2 separate regions of the Homo sapiens genome follow, and region 1 is linked to region 2. The links come from fine-mapping of genetic effects on gene expression. Tissue or cell type: whole blood. Region 2 holds a variant in brackets; the other region holds the start of a gene. All regions are shown on one strand. Distances are between the middles of the regions.

Region 1 (8,092 bases), 25 kb after region 2:
TCACACCTGTAATCCCAGCACTTTGGGAGGCCAAGGCAGGCAGATCACAAGGTCAGGAGATCGAAACCATCCTGGCTAACACGGTGAAACCCCATCTGTACTAAAAATACAAAAAATTAGCCGGGCGTGGTGGCACTCGCCTGTAGTCCCAGCTACTCAGGAGGCTGAGGCAGGAGAATCACTTGAACCTGGAAGGTGGAGGTTGCAGTGAGCCGAGATTGCGCCACTGCACTCCAGGGCGACAGAGCGAGACTCCATCTCAAAAAAAAAAATTTGAAAATATGCCCAAATGTCCAGCTAGTCAGTGGAAGAACTGAGACCTAAGTCCAGGTCCGTCTTTCTCCAGCACCCTGGCTGGTGGTCCCCAGGCTGGCCTGTGCCTACCGCTGCAGCCCATCATTTCCCCTCAAGTCCCTTACCTCACCACCCTCTCCCTCCTCCACCTGCCTCAGCTCATGTTGTATTCTGGATGAACAGTGCTCCCTGGAGTTGTGCAACCCAGAGACCTAGCTCGTTTTCATCCCCAGGGCGGAAGACTCACTCCTTTGAGGGCCCTATGGGTGACTCAAGTCTCCCTGTCCTGTTGCGTGGCAGCGGCCCCACCCAACCCCATTCCTGCCTGGCCACCAGCATCACCCTGCCTGTCCCCTGCTTCCATGTCACCCAGACCTGTCACTGCAGGAAGATGCTCTGTGTCCCCAGTGAGACCCTCCCCTTGGCATGCTCACCATCTCCCAGGCTTTCCTCGCCTCTCCTTTCCCCAGCTCAGGCCCTGTTCCCCAATCCTGGGGGAAGATTCCAGCACAGGGCAATGAGAAACGGAAGAGAGGTAGTCAGCTGCAGGGAGGATGGGGCTTCGGGCCCTGGGTGTCCTCAGCTCAGCCTTTCCCTCCCATTCGCCTCAAGGGAAGCCAACAGACACTCAGGTGGTGGAACTGGGAGATAAGAGAGGACAGGCCCCCAGTCCTCATGCAGCACCACAAATTAGGAAGCTGACCCCAGCCCACCACACAAGGGGCTCTGGCAGGGGTGGGTGCAAGGAGCTCAGCCACTCCGGTCCTATGTCTCTCCCATGGGAGTAACCAAGCAAGTGGAAAACCCACTGGGCAGCCTTGGCCAGCCTTAACCTTGGAGAAACCCTGACAGTCTATCTGAATAACAGGGCCCCTATTAGATAGATCCTTACTGGATTAAGGGGGGCCTTTTGGAGTAACAGTGCATCCTGTTAGAGAAATATGGTGTCCTGTTGGGAAAATAGGGAGTCCTTTGGAGCAATAGAACATCCCATCAGTCTAAAAAATGCTCAATTAGAAAACTGGGGCTCATGCCTGTAATGCCAGCACTTTGGGAGGCTGAGGCAGGCAGATCACCTGAGTTCAGGAGTTTGAGACCAGCCTGGCCAACAAAGTGAAACCCCATCTCTACTAAAAATGCAAAAACTAGCATCAGGAGGCTGAGGCAGGAGAATCGCTTGAACCTGGGAGGTGGAGGTTGCAGTGAGCCGAGATCGTGCCATTGCACTCCAGCCTGGGCAACAAGAGTGAAACTCCGTCTCAAAAAAAGAAAGCCAGGGCGTCATAATTATAAGACCGCAGCACCACGGAGACCTGTTGAACTCAAAGGGCTTCTAAATGGGATAGCAAGGTGCTGGTTGGAATAATGGGGCATCCTGTTATAGTAACAGAATCCTGCTGGAGTAACAGGGCGTCTTTCTGGAGCGCATATGATTGGCATCATAAATAGGCCTCCTGTGAGAGTCCTGAGCCTGTACTTAGCATCACAAGGGGTATTTTTAACGTGGCCGGGCATCTTATAGGAGTCAGGGAGGACTGGAGAGGTAGCGGGGAGCGCACTCTGGGAATGCTGTCTGCTGCCAGATGGGGATGCTGAGGGTAGCTGCTGGGCCTCAGGCACCTCTCTTCCTCCAATGTGCAGCCCCAAGCTGAGCTCAGGGCAGCAGCACTGACTGAGGGAAATGTGTGACAGTGGCAGGAGAGCCCAGGAGTCCCTGGTGGGGCTGGGCCCCCCTCTGGCTTGATGGGAGCCTGGGTGCCATGCCAGGGTAGCAGGCTGGAGCTAGAGGCCTCACGGCCATAGGATGGAGCAGGGTGATGAGGGCTTACCTGTGGCCTCCCGGAGTGCCAGGGTCTCGTAGCCATCCATCCACTGGTAGGCGGGGAAGTGGTAGATACGGCCGTTGGGGGCACAGATCTGCACATAGTTGCAGTACCAAGGGTCCTTGGGGAAGAAGGCGTACCGCTCTTTGTGCAGGCGGATGATGATGAGCTCACCCAGGTCCTGAGGGCACTGCACGGTGTACTGGCCCACCTAGGCAGGATGCAAGCCTGGCTGAGTGGGCAGGACTTCACCCCGGCTCCCAGGCCGCCCACCCCTCTGGCCCCTCACCTAGGCCCTGCTCATGCTGCGCAATGCTCACCTCCCTGGACTGACGGAGGGACAGGATATTGACCTGATCATTGAGCTTCCTTCTGACTTCTCCAGCTTGGGGGTCTCCTACTGGATTCCTCTACCCAGGGCTATGTAGGACTCCAGCCCCTCCTTCTCTCCATCCCCAGCTCCTGTCTTCTCCCACTCCCCTCTCCAGGCACCTGAGGTTGCAGGAACCCTTCAGACCCCTGGGGACTTGGGTACCACTCTACAGTTTTCGAGTGGGGAGAGGCCCAGCCAGCCCCTTCTCCCATTCATCAATGAAGATGCAGATATTCAGAATGGCCACATAGATAGAGTGACCTATTAAGGTCGCCTAGCAGCAGGTGGCTGGGTCTGACTGAAAATCAGGTCTGAGGACCCGCAAAGCGTGCCTTCCACTGGACAGGCTGGTCTGATGCCATTTTAAGTCACAGAGAATCCAGTGCAAATGTGAGACAGTTAGGAGGCAGCTGAATTAGGAAGAGTGACTGAGAATGGAAGAGAGAGGGATGCGGGAGAGGGGGTAAGACAGAAAGGGGAGGAGAGCAAAGGGGAAGGAAAGCAGGTGGAAAGGATTGAGAAAAGAGAGATGCAGGATAGGCAGAGACAGGGAGAGAGGGCTGAGGAAGAGGGAGAGAGAAGAAAAGGATGGGGAGGGAGATGAGGAATGCCTGAAAGGGTTAGAGATGAAGGAGCAGGATGGAGAAGGATGGCCCAGAGATCTGGGACATGGGCGAGGGGCTGGAAGCCAGCTCTGGACAAGGCGTGTAGAGCCACTGGGGAGCCCACTGCCTTCGGAGCTGTGCCTCAGCTCTCCAGCCTCTCCTCGCCAAGCTCAGCTCACCTGGCTCCCCCTGCGCACCTTCACCCCTCCCGGGGCCACAAAGACACACAGACACACACAGACACACACAGACACACACACACACACACACAGACACACACACACACACACACACACACACACTCTTACCGCCCCAGTTGCAAAGTCTCTCCCAAAGTGGTTCAGCAGCTGCTTATGGCTCTCTCCTTGTGTCCCCACAATGGTCAGTGAGATGGAGTCCCGTGTTCCCGACAAGAGGTCGGTGCCTGTGGCCACCCTGACTTTGTAGGTGGCCATGGCTGCTCTTCAGGAGGCAAGAGGGGCACTCAGTCCCAGACACCGTGGAGGGGCCACACGAAGGCCCAAGGCAGGCAAGAGAAGCCAGGCACAGAGTGGAGTGGACAGGGCTGGCCTCCGAGGTGCAGTGGTGAGGTGGCGAGGTGGGGTGACTAGGCCTGCCAGCCAAATTCTGGAAAAGCTGCTGCCCTTGGTGGCCGGGGTGGGTGCCGGGCAGGCCCAGGCGGAGCCCAGCTGGTGGTGAGTGAGCAGGTGTCTGGGCTCCAAGCCTTCTGGGAGCTGGTGGGGAGGAAGAGCAGGCAGGGCACTGGGCCTGCCTCTGAAAGGGCGGATAGAAGATGCCGTGGATGAAGGCGCCTTCAGGGTGGGGGAGCCAGTCCAGCCTGAGCCAGGGCCCTAGGGAAGTTGCGGGAGGGGGCAGGGTGTGGTCCCCAGATCTTTATCAGACTAATAAGCTCCTTCCTCCTGCCAGTCCCCATTGGCTACAGTGCCAGGCACCCCTACTAAGCAGGGCCATGGGCAGTGAGTGACTTGCATTGGTTCTGAGGCCACTGGTGGGCGGGGGAGGGGAGGGGGAGGGGCACTAAGTGGCAGCGCAGCTGGCCAGCCTCCAGGCCATTCCTCTCTGGGAAATGGGACAGGTAGTGGCCACAGTGAGAAAGCTGGCCTGTCCTTCTGCCCCAGGGCCCAGAGTCTGTGACTGGAAGGGTGGGAGGTGTTGAAGCTAGGGCTCGGGGACCACATGGGTGCCCAAAGGCCTGAAGATGCTGCGGGGAGGAACGATCAGGGTAGGAGAAGGGGATCTGTTGCTTCCTGTGGGGCCAGGATCCACTGGTGAGGGATTGGAGTTGGATATAAAATCAGAAGCCCAAAAAAAAAAAAAAAAAAACTAAATTAGAAGACAGAGTGAAATCTGGGGCATAAGAATTAAGTTAAATAGCTGGGCGTGGTGGCTCACGCCTGTAATCCCAGCACTTTAGAAAGCCAAGGCAGGTGGGTCACCTGAGCTCAAGAGTTCGAGACCAGCCTGGCCAACATGGTGAAACCTTGTCTCTACTAAAAATACAAAAATTAGCCAGGCGTGGTGGCATGCGCCTGTAGTCCCAGCTACTTGGGAGGCTGAGGCAGGAGAATCGCTTGAACTCAGGAGGCGGAAGTTGCAGTGAGTTGAGATCGTGCCACCGCACTCCAGCCTGGGCAACAGAGCAAGACTCCGTCTCCAAAAAAAAAAGACAAAAGAATTAAGTTAAATAATGGATTAATATGATCAATATTTTGTGGTATAATCATAAAATAGAATTCTACCCAGGAATAAAAAGAATGAACTGCAATGCGGATGAGTCTCACAAAGATGATACTGAGCAAAAAGAGCCAGACATTAAAGGGGATACGTTCTGTTATCCATTGATAGGAACTTCCAGAACCAGCAAAACTGAGCAATTCTCAGACAACCTCTACTGGTGAGTATCCCTGGCAGAGGGAGGCCATATAGGCTGCTGGAGGTGTTCTTATCTTGATCTGAGGGGCGTCTAGGGTACTTCATTCATTTCATTATGTGTTATCCTTTAATTTCATAAAGTACATACCCTCACTTCCCTCCCAAAAAAGAATGAAGCTAGGAAGAGGGCTGGAGGCAGGGCTGAGCTCCAGTGGAACTGTGTTTGTTGGGAACCAGGTCGTTCCTCCCTCAGATATGTAGTGAGCACGGTGCACGGCGTTCTAGGCACTGCAGAGGCAGAGAAGAAATGAAACATACATGGAGCTTACGGAATAGCTGGGAAAGAAGTGAAAGAAACAGTAAACAAGAATTTGTTCACTATAATTTTGGATACTAAGTGCTCTGAAGAAAATAAGCGTGGGAGGTTGGGATTGGGAACTAGTTGCTGATAGAATCACAGAAGTCAGAGCCGCAGGATAGGGAGAAGGTGTTAGGAGTAAGGTGAAGAGCATTATGAGAGAGTCAGAGATAGACTCTCCAAAGATAGGATTTGGGACCCAGGGAGAGTGAGGAGGCAGGCACGTTCCTATTCCCTTTTTCTGGACCTGTCCTCTTTCCTTTCACCTCCGAGGAGCAGCTTCTGTCAACCAGGAAGCATAGCCCTGCTTTCCTCCCTGATGGCACGCTTCCATCACCATCGAAGGAAGGTCATTCAATGCCCAGGCCAAGTTAGGGTCAGAGGGGGCTGGGATTGTGAGATGAAGAGAAGGTTCCAGTAGGTTCCAGACTGGATGTGGAATGGGGTCGAAACTGCAATTCAGGTTTAGGTTAGAGACACAGATGTGGCTGGAGTTGGGGATTGAAATGATCTTTTCCAGACCCAAATCTGTTCACATCACTCTCTATGTTCCCTCCTCCCAACCCTGATCAAGCCTGGCAGTGGCTCCTCTTTACCTTTGGGACAGTGACACCATCCCCTCCCGTGGCCCCCACGGCCTGCCTGATTGGCTTCACCCCTCACATTCCCCTTTGCTCTCTTCTGTCTGGGACCACGTGCCTTTCATTCATTCATCAACAGACACTGGCCGAACCCCTACTGTGTGTTCAGCGCTGTGTCAGGTCCTGAAAATACAATGCGATCAAAGCAAACCCCTGCACCCATGGAGCTTGCCTTCAAGTGAGGGAAGCAGACAATATTACCTAGTAACCAAATACATTAAATAGTATGTTAAATAGTGATAAGTGCTGAAGAGAAAAGAGAGAACAGGGAAGGATAATATAAAAAATAGAGGAGTGCCGGGCATGGTGGCTCATGCCTGTAATCCCAGCACTTTGGGAGGCTGAGGTGGGCGGATCACCTGAGGTCAGGAGTTCGGGACCAGCCTGACCAACATGGAGTAACCCCGTCTCTACTAAAAATAAAAATTAGCCGGGCATGGTGGCGCATGCCTGTAATCCCAGCTACTCGGGGGCTGAGGCAGGAGAATAGCTTGAACCCAGGAAGCAGAGGTTGCAGTGAGCCAAGGTCATGCCATTGCTATCAAGCCTGGGCAACAAAAGCGAAAATCCATCTCAGAAAAAAGAAAAGGAGGATATTTTAGATACAGAGTGGCCAAGGAGGGCTCCTTGGGAAGAAGACTTTTGAGTAAAGACCTGAAGGAAGTGAAGTCAGCTCGTCACCATCCCAGGGCCTTGGCACATGCTGTTCCCTCTCTACCTCTCAAACTGAGGTCACGTTTCCTCTTCCTCCTGATCTTAGCTCAATAATTGCTTTTTCCAGGAAAGCCAAATTTCACTATACATGGCTCTCACAGCACTATAGCTAACATCTTTGATTGATGTCTGTTTTCTCTAATAAATTAGTCCATACTTTTTTTTGGTTTTGTCCCCATCTCCTGGTGTCATACTTGGTACCTGGGAGACACCGAAAACATAGTTGAATGGGTTAATGACAAGGACAAGGTCAGGGCTGGGGATTGAATCGATGATGGCTTTGGAGTTATGGTGAAGATCCGAAGAGAGCTGACTTGGGCTCAGGGTGAGAGAAGGGGCAAGGCGTGGTGTAGGGGAGGGAAAGGGGTTGGGTGGGGAGGGAGGGAGGAGAGGGGAGAAGGCTGAGGATGAGGGTTGTGCCCAGCTCTGGGTGGCAGGGCTGGCTGTCCTGGGCTGCAGACAGAAGCCGTCCAGCTGGATCTCCCCCCTGGGATCTCCCTCCTCAACCACCTCGATGACTCTTGGAGGATGCTGGGAGCCTGAAGATGCAAATCTTAAGATGCAAATTCCATGCAAATTCTCCCAGCTTCCTCTTTCTAATCTCTCCCCTTTGCCCTGTGTCCCCAGGGGGCTGCTGAGGCTTGGTGAGAAGCAGGGCAGTGGACTGGGCAAACTGAGTCATATCCTGCTACCAATAGGTCTCCTCCAACCCAAATCCCAGGGTGGCCCTGGGTTTGCTCAGGGCTCCAGTGTGGAGTGGGAATTAGGTTCCTGAGGGAGACGGAGATGGAGGCAGGGATGCTGAGGATGTCAATGTGGCTGGGGCAGGGACAGGGACGGGATCAGGCATGAGGATGTAGATGGGGCACTCCCCAGCTATGACCAAAACGTAGACGCGTGACTCTTGATAGGTGCTCATTGGGCTGAAGAACTGGTTCTCCTGGACCAGGGGCGGGAGCCAGTGAGGAGGAGAGGTTTCTGGGAAGGATTCACACTCACTGGGGTTGCTAACTAGGGGCCATCCACACAGGAAGCTGAGTTCTCACTGCTGGGGTATCCCCCGTGCCTGACCCCACCCCAAGCCCTGCAAGGCAAGGAGCAACTAACTCCTGGGGACCCACTCTCCTAAGACACAGAGAAAGAAAAATCAAATCACGCCACTCCCCTGCTTAAAGTTCACCAGAGCTTAAAATGGGGTTGTCCGTAGAAATGAATCCAAGGGCCAGGCGCGGTGGCTCATGCCCATAATCCCAGCACTTTGGGAGGCCAACACAGGCGGATCATGAGGTCGGGAGTTCAAGACCAGCCTGACCAACATGGTAAAACCCCGTCTCTACTAAAAATACAAAAATTAGCCGGGCGTTGTGGCACGCGCCTGTAATCCCAGCTAT
Region 2 (8,101 bases):
CGCCAGCTACAGCAGGGAGTACAGGCTTAGATTTATGTTTCCCAAAAGCTATCTCTCTGCTTCCAGGGAAATCCCCTCAAAAAGTCCCCACTGGAGTATTTGGCCCTTTACCTGATGGACAGTTGGACTTGTTTTAGGAACATCTAGTCTAAACTTAAAAGGAGTTCAGATTCATACTGGGCTGATTGATTCAGATTTTGTGGGAGAAATTCAATTGGTTATTAGTTCCAGTATTCCTTGGAGTGCAAACCCAGGAGATAGAATTGCTCAGCTGTTGTTATTACCTTATGTAATAGTAGAAAAAAGTACAGTAAAAAGAGAAAGTGGTTTTGGCAGTACTGACAGTGAAGGAAAAGCAGCCTATTGAGTAAATCAAGCTTCTAAAAACAGACCTGTGTGCACAATGATTCAGGGAAAACAGTTTGAAGGACTGGTAGACACAGGTGCTAATATTTCAATTATAGCTCTAAATCAGTGGCCAAAAGCGTGGCCCCGACAAAAGGCTTCTATGGGCTTGATTGGAGTAGGCACAGCATCTGAAGTCTATCAAAGTGCTACAATTTTACATCGTTTAAGACCAGATGGGCAGGAAGTCACCATCCAACCTATGATTACTTTCATTCCCATTAATTTGTAGGGGAGAGATTTGTTACAGCAATGGGGTACAGAAATCACCATTCCCCCTGCAATTTACAGTCCTGAGAGCCAAAGAATGATGACCAAAATGGGATATATTCCTGGGAAAGGATTAGGAAAAAAATGAGGACGGAATAACCCAGCCGATTGAGGTCTCAGTTAAATTTGACCGAAGAGGAATTGGATATCCTTCTTAGGTGCGGCCACTGTTGAGCCTCCAAAGCCCATTGCATTAAAACGGAAAACTCCAAAACCTGTTTGGGTTGATCAGTGGCCGCTTCCTCAACAAAAACTGGAGGCATTACATTCATTGGCAAAAGAACAATTAGACAAAGGACATATTGAACCATCTTTTTCACCATGGAACGCCCCAGTTTTTGTAATTCAGAAAAAATTCGCTAGATGGCGCATATTGACCGACTTATGAGCGGTTAACGCAGCCATTCAACCGATGGGAGCTCTCCAACCAGGGTTGCCATCTCCGGCCATGATCCCAAAAGAATGGCCGATGGTAATAATTGATCTAAAAGATTGTGTTTTTTACTATTCCTTTGGCTCCTCAGGATTTTGAGAAATTTGCATTTACAATACCTGCCATGAATAACAAGGAACCAGCTACTATATATCGATGGAAAGTTGTACCCCAAGGAATGTTAAATAGTCAAACTTTTGTTGGAAAGGTTATTCAGCTTGTCAGGGATCAGTTTCCTGATTGCTATATTATTCATTATGTTGATGACATTTTATGTGCTGCTGCAAGCAGGGACAGACGGATTGAGTGTTTTGCTAGGCTACAAGAAGTGGTGGGACTTACAGGTCTCGCTATAGCACCAGATAAAATCCATACTACACCCTATCATTACCTGGGAATGAGGGTACAGGAGAAAACAGTAAAGCCTCAAAAGGAGGAAATTCGTAAAGAGTCCTTAAAAACCTTAAATGATTTCCAAAAATTATTAGGGGACGTTAATTGGATAAGACCTACTTTAGGAATTCCCACCTAAGCAATGTCTAAACTGTTTGCTTTGCTGAGATGGGATCCAAATTCATGTAGCAAAAGAACTCTGATGCCTGCTGCAGCTGAAGAGTTACAAATGATTGAGGAAAAAATTCAAAGTGCTCAAGTCCGTAGAAGAGATCCTAGTGTTCCATTACAGCTCTTAGTGTTCCCTACTCTCCATTCTCCTATAGGAGTGATTGTTCAAAATGTTGACTTAGTTAAATTGTCCTTTTTAACGCACAGTACGACTAGAACTTTCTCAATTTATTTAGATCAAATAGCTATTCTTATAGGCCAAATACAACTGAGAATAGTCAGACTCATTGGCACCGATCGAGATAAAAATGTAGTTCCTTTAAACAAAGCACAGGTTCGACAAGCCTTTATTAATTCGTCAGAATGGCAGTCAAATCTGGCTGATTTTGTTGGCAGTATAGATATTCATTACCCTAAAACTAAAATGTTTCAGTTCCTAAAAATTGACTACCTAAATTTTACCCAAAATAACTAGTTCCATTCCTTTGGAGGGAGCCGTAACTATCTTTACTGATGGCTCTCAGAATGGAAAAGCAGCTTATACAGGACCGGAAGAAAAGATTATTCAAACTCAGTTTCATTCTGCACAAAGAGCTGAGCTACAAGCAGTTATATCTGTATTGGAAGATTGTAATCAACCTGTTAATATAATCTCTGACTCTGCTTACGTATTCCAAGCTGCCAAAATGGTAAAAACAGCTTTAGTAAAACATATTTCTGATGATCAGTTAAATTTCTTGTTTAGTTCACTTCAACAAGCAGTTAGGACTCAAAATTTTCCCTTTTATATTACACATATTTAGGCTCACACAAACTTACCAGGACCTTTAACCCTATTAAATAATCAAGCAAATTTATTAGTGACGCCTGTTCTAACAGTGTCCGGCCTCTGAGCCCAAGCTAAGCCATCATATCCCCTATGACCTGCACGTATACATCCAGATGCCCTGAAGCAACTGAAGAATCACAAAAGACGTGAAAATGGCTGGTTTCTGCCTTAACTGATGACATTACCTTGTGAAATTCCTTCTCCTGGCTCAGAAGCTCCCCTACTGAGCACCTTGCAACCCCCGCCCCTGCCCGCCAGAGAACAACCCCCTTTGACTGTAATTTTCCACTACCTACCCAAATCCTATAAAAGGGCCCCACCCCTATCTCCCTTCGCTGACTCTCTTTTCGGACTCAGCCCACCTGCACCCAGGTGAAATAAACAGCCTTGTTGCTCACACAAAGCCTGTTTGGTGGTCTCTTCACACAGACGCGAACAAAAGCTCAAAACTTCCATTCCCTAATTCATGTAAATGCTGCTGGATTAAAAAATAAATATTCATTTACCTGGAAACAAGCTAAAAATATAGTACAACATCCTCAGTGCCAAGTGCTACAGCTACCCACCCAAAAACCTGAAGGTAACCCTAGGGGGCTTCAACCAAATGCAGTGTGGCAAATGGACATGACTCATGTCCCATCATTCGGAAAACTTTCTTTCGTACATGTTACTGTTAATACTTTTTCTCGGTTTATCTGGGCTACACGCCAAACTGGAGAAAGCACAGCTCACGTAAAACGACATTTATTATCTTGTTTTGCAGTCATGGGTGTGCCACAGAAAGGAAAAATGGTCTGGTGGAAGGATACCAGAACCAAAACTTGGAAATTAAGAAAAAGTATTACTTGGGGGAGGGGTTTTCCTTGTGTTTCACCAAGAGACAATCAAACACTCATTTGGATACCCAATAGACATTTAAAATTCTACAATGAACCCTACACCGACCGGTCAGAAAAAAGGAAAGAATCAAAAGAGAAAGAAGACCGGTCCCTTCGACCTGTCTTTTCGGGAGCTGAGGAAAATGGTGAAGCTGAGCGTCTCGGAGAAAAAACAGAAGACGGAGAAGACTCGCTAGGCTACACCACTGACATGGGGACAGATAAAGAAGCTGACTCAATTGGCAGAGGACACCCTAAAGGAGAAACAACTAGCGATTACACCGGGTAATATGATCTTGGCTGCCTTGATGGTAATCACCACGGCGGTAAGTCTCTCTGCTGTTTCAGCTAAGCAAAATTTTACTACTGGGCTTATGTTCCATTTCCTCCTTTGATTAGACCTGTCACTTGGATGGACTCCCCTACTGAAGTTTATACAAATGGTAGTATCTGGATGCCTGGGCCGACTTATGATAGCTGTCCTGCATAGCCTGAGGAGGAGGGCATGTTAATGAATGGGATAATTGGGTATAAATACCCTCCAGTTTGTTTAGGAATTGCTCCTGGATGTTTGCCATTACAAATACAAAGTTGGATGGTCTACGTACCTCCTCATAATCGTTCTCAACCTAGTTATCACGTAGTGAGTGGAATGTCTTTTCAACCCATCAGGACTGTAAAAACTTAAGGGGATAGTTATTATCAGTCAAATATAAAAGTCCAAAATTGCAAGCCTAAGGGATTGGCTTGCCCTAAAAGGAATCCAGAATGGTCAGAAAAATGAGAAATTCTTACTTGGGAGGTTTGTGTGGCAGATAATGCGGTAGTTTTGCGAAATGGTTCTCATGGGGTCATTATAGACTGGGCTCCTAAGGAATCTTTTGCTAGAAATTGCACCGGACAAAACGCTGGGTGCGCTGGGGACTCCTTTATGATCGAATATAGAAATGATCCATATAATCCCCCCACTTTAGTTAGAAGATTTGAATCAACATACCCATTAAAGTGGGAAGATAAAGATACTGCTCCCCCTCCACCAAAAATTAGTCCGGTCGTGGGTCTGGAACATCCAGAATTGTGGAAGTTGCTTATGGCGACCTCCGGAATGAGAGTGTGGAAAGGGGAAGCGTCCTGGGGAACAAAAGGTAATAAGCCACTCTTTACTATGCCTTCTCCCTCTGCCCACTCCCCCGCCCCCCGAAAGGAAGACCTCCAGGTGACGCTCCCTGAGGACTCGGGCCAGGTGCTGCTGCTGCGTTTGCACAAGGCGTCCCCCGCCTCCCCTCCCCTCTGCCACCCCTCCCCCCGCCGGCCTCCCCGCCTCCCCCACCTCACCCCTACCCCCTCCGCCCCCCGCCCCCCGCCACGCTGCCTCGCCCCCTCTAGGTCCGGCCCAGACTCCGGGGTCTGCCGCTGGGTCCAGCTGAGGCTGCTGGGGACCCCCTCCG[C/T]TCCCCCTTACCAGTGGCTGGAGGGGGCAGGCAAAGGGCAGGGCCGGGGCTGCAGGAGGGGCATGGAGGGAGCGAGGGGGACCAGGGTGGTCATGGGTCAGGGGAGGGGGGCTGGTGTGGACACAGTGGGGAGGGGGGAGGCAGAAAGGTGACATGAGGGGCACGGGAAGGAGGAGGTGGGATGGTTGGGAGGAACCATACTCAGGGAGGGGAGGATGGAAGATAAGTGGGGGAGGGGAGCACCGGCTCTGACAAGAGGATTAGGTGGGGAAGTTGAGTGGTGGATCAGTGAGTGGAAGAGGGAGAAGCTGGTGGAAAGAGAACAGGCCTGTGAAGCAGAGGGGTTGGGGGCAGAACATCGTGGCCCAGTATTGGGGGTGGTGGGTGTAGCTATGTCTTCTCTTTCCTCTTCCCACCGACTTTACTCTTTGGTCCCCTCTGGCCTGGGCTGTTGAGTTGGGGCTCAGTGAACGGATGGGGACGACCTCAGGTGCTGAAGCAGGTGCTGAAGCAGGGTCTGCCGTGGGGGGAAGGTGGAGTGGGCAGGGCTTCTCCATCCCTGGGGGAAGAGGCAAAGCAGACGCAGAGGCCAGGGGCTGGCCAACACCCTGGTTCAAAGATGCTCCCACCCCAGGTCTGGGGAGAGGAGGGGAGAGGCTGGGGGCTAAGATCTCCCTTTCTGCACCTGGATCCCCTCCACAGCCTGGGCCATTCTGTCTTTGTTTCTGCAGGAACACTGCCCTGAAACTGCAGGACTGCTGGGCAGCCAGGGGTCTGGAAAAGGGATCAGTGTACCTTCATCTTCCCCACACCAAGGTGTCAGGTCCGCAGGGTGAGGGAGGAAGGGCGAGGTGGCTGCAGCAGGGCAAGAGGGTCCTTGGTGGCAACCTTGTGGGACTGAGAACCAGAAAGCCAAAATTAGAACATTCTGGAAATCACAGGACTTGTTCTGTGCTGCCACCAGTTCCTACCTGTCCTTTGAAGAAGCTCACTTCTGCCCTGAGAATGTGCACGTCCTGCCATTGTGCTCGGCTCACTGCAACCTCTGCCTCCTGGGTTCAAGCGATTCTCCTGCCTCAGCCTCCTGAGTAGCTGGGACTACAGGCACCCACTACCACACCTGGCTAATTTTTGTATTTTTAGGAGAGACGGGGTTTCACCATGTTGGTCAGGCTGGTCTCGAACTCCTGACCTCCTGATCTGCCCACCTCAGCCTCCCAAAGTGTTGGGATTACAGGGGTGAGCCACCACGCCCAGCCCAGCAGTGGCTTCTGTGTGGGAAGAAGGTCAGGGCTGAAGGACCCTGGGAGGATGCCCCACCCAACATGTCCTCTCTCATCGTGGGGTAATTGCCCATGTTTGCCCAGCCATTCTCACCTATCAGGGCTTCCAAAAGAATGGCCAAAGTAAGTTCTAACAACTTTGCTTCTTTGCCAAGGCAAGCACCAATGCTACTTTTCTGCCCTCTCTGGATGCCCGTGACTTCGGTCCCACAGGAAGCCAAGCTCCTGAGGCAGCTGAAATTCAGTCAGGGGACTGGGGTCTGTGTACTGATCTACACCCCACTTCATACCTACTTCTTCAAACTGTCCCCAACACTGGGAACACCTGTCCTTGAATATCCTCAGCAATTTAAGGGGAAAAAAAGGCTGAAGCAGAAAGACTTTTTCCTTCCAAAATTGTGCCTGCTTGCTTGGGGGCCTAGGCATGCAGACTTGAAAATAAATCAAGCTTGGGTGGGGCATGGTGGCTCCCGCCTGTAATCCCAGCACTTTGGAAGGCCGAGGCAGGCCAGGCAGGGTGAGGAGGATCACAAGGTCAGGAGATCGAGACCATCCTGGCTAACATGGTGAAACCCTGTCTCTACTAAAAATACAAAAACAAAATTAGCCAGGGTGGTGGCGGGTGCCTGTAGTCCCAGCTACTCTGGAGGCTGAGGCAGGAGAATGGCATGAACCCAGGAGGCAAAGCTAGCAGTGAGCGGAGATCGCACCACTGCACTCCAGCCTGGGCGACAGAGAGAGACTATAGAAAGAAAGGAAGAAAGAAAGGAAGGAAGGAAGGAAACTAAGCTTAGGAGGCCGAGGCAGGTGGATCACCTGAGGTCAGGAGTTTGAGACCAGCCTGACCAACACAGCAAAACCCCGTCTCTACTAAAAATACAAAAATTAGCCACGCATGGTGGCAGGCACCTGTAATCTCAGCTACTCAGGAGTCTGACGCAGGAGAGTTGCTTGAACCTGGGAGGCAGAGGTTGTAGTGAGCCGAGATTGCGCCACTTCACTCCAGCCTGGGCGAAAGAGCGAAACTCCGAATAAATAAATAAATAAATAAACAAACAAGCAAACCAAGCTGGAAGATTCAGTAGTGCTCACTCTCCAATATCCTTGTTGCCGCTGGGTGCACGATGCATTTAAACTATACAGGTCAAACTCTTGGTTCAGAAACCCTAGCACCAGTGCCACGCCCCAAAGCAATGCAACCTCTTATTAAATGATCACTCTGGTTTAACAAATCATCTACACTGCCTTGTGACAAAGTAGCAGGAGAATGGGACCCGGGACTGGTGAGTTTTGGCAGGGAATCAAAAGGGCCTCTCTGAGCGGAAGCCCGGAAGGACGGGCCGTTCTGGTATCCAGCATTCTTTAGTATTCCAGTTTTCTCAAATTCAACTTATCCTAGGTGAGGTCTTAGTGCACATCACAGAGCATGTTAGGCTTCCCTCAAAACGGGTGGGGCCAAGGGAGTTCAGATGACTCCTCAGGCAGAAACCAAACCTGCGATCCTTTGTTGTCTAAGAAAACCACTTGGAAAAGTAAAGTCATCCAACCCGTTGTGCTAGAGAGGAGGGAAGCCCAGCCCAGCCATCAGCATCAGGAAGTGGCTATGCTGGGAAGTTGGAGATGGGTCTGACAGTGGTGGCCATGCTGCAGGCAGAGGACCAGGGTGACTCTCCCCACGCCTACCCTCTGCAGAGTATGCATTTCAGACTAGAAGGAGGATGAGGACACCTTTTTCGCCTCCTTCACCTCCTAGTTTCTGAATGACCTCAACTCCATCCTGATCCACTGCTGTCACTGACTCCCAAAGAATTTTCTGGTCACTGATGCCATGATGGTCCCTGCGCTGGACCCTGGGACCAGTCTGCAGGCTGAGCGGGCGCCAGTGGAGGGAGGGGCATTGTTCTGAGATGGTGAGGGCTGAGGGGCAGGGCTGAGTGAGGAATGTGCTCTCTCCTGCTACTTTGCCAGGAGCCATGCATTGACAGGCCCTC

Evidence for each region. PIP is the estimated chance that this variant, and not a neighbour inherited with it, causes the effect.
Region 1: ALOX12B starts here. The variant in region 2 is fine-mapped to the expression of ALOX12B in whole blood (TOPMed, PIP 0.99).

Annotation. Positions count from the first base shown.
Region 1 is chr17:8,083,893-8,091,984 of GRCh38, forward strand. ALOX12B (arachidonate 12-lipoxygenase, 12R type) reads right to left here and starts at 3,824. Exons shown (of 15, transcript NM_001139.3): 1 at 3,404-3,824; 2 at 2,124-2,328. The coding sequence starts at 3,550. MIR4314 (microRNA 4314) reads left to right here and starts at 4,164; the gene lies at 4,164-4,255. RefSeq lists an enhancer at 2,852-3,600.
Region 2 is chr17:8,059,356-8,067,456 of GRCh38, forward strand. No RefSeq gene overlaps it. Among named protein-coding and RNA genes, the nearest start is that of ALOX12B, 24 kb to the right of the region's middle. RefSeq lists an enhancer at 4,992-5,493. The variant C/T (reference allele first, on the strand shown) is at 4,828.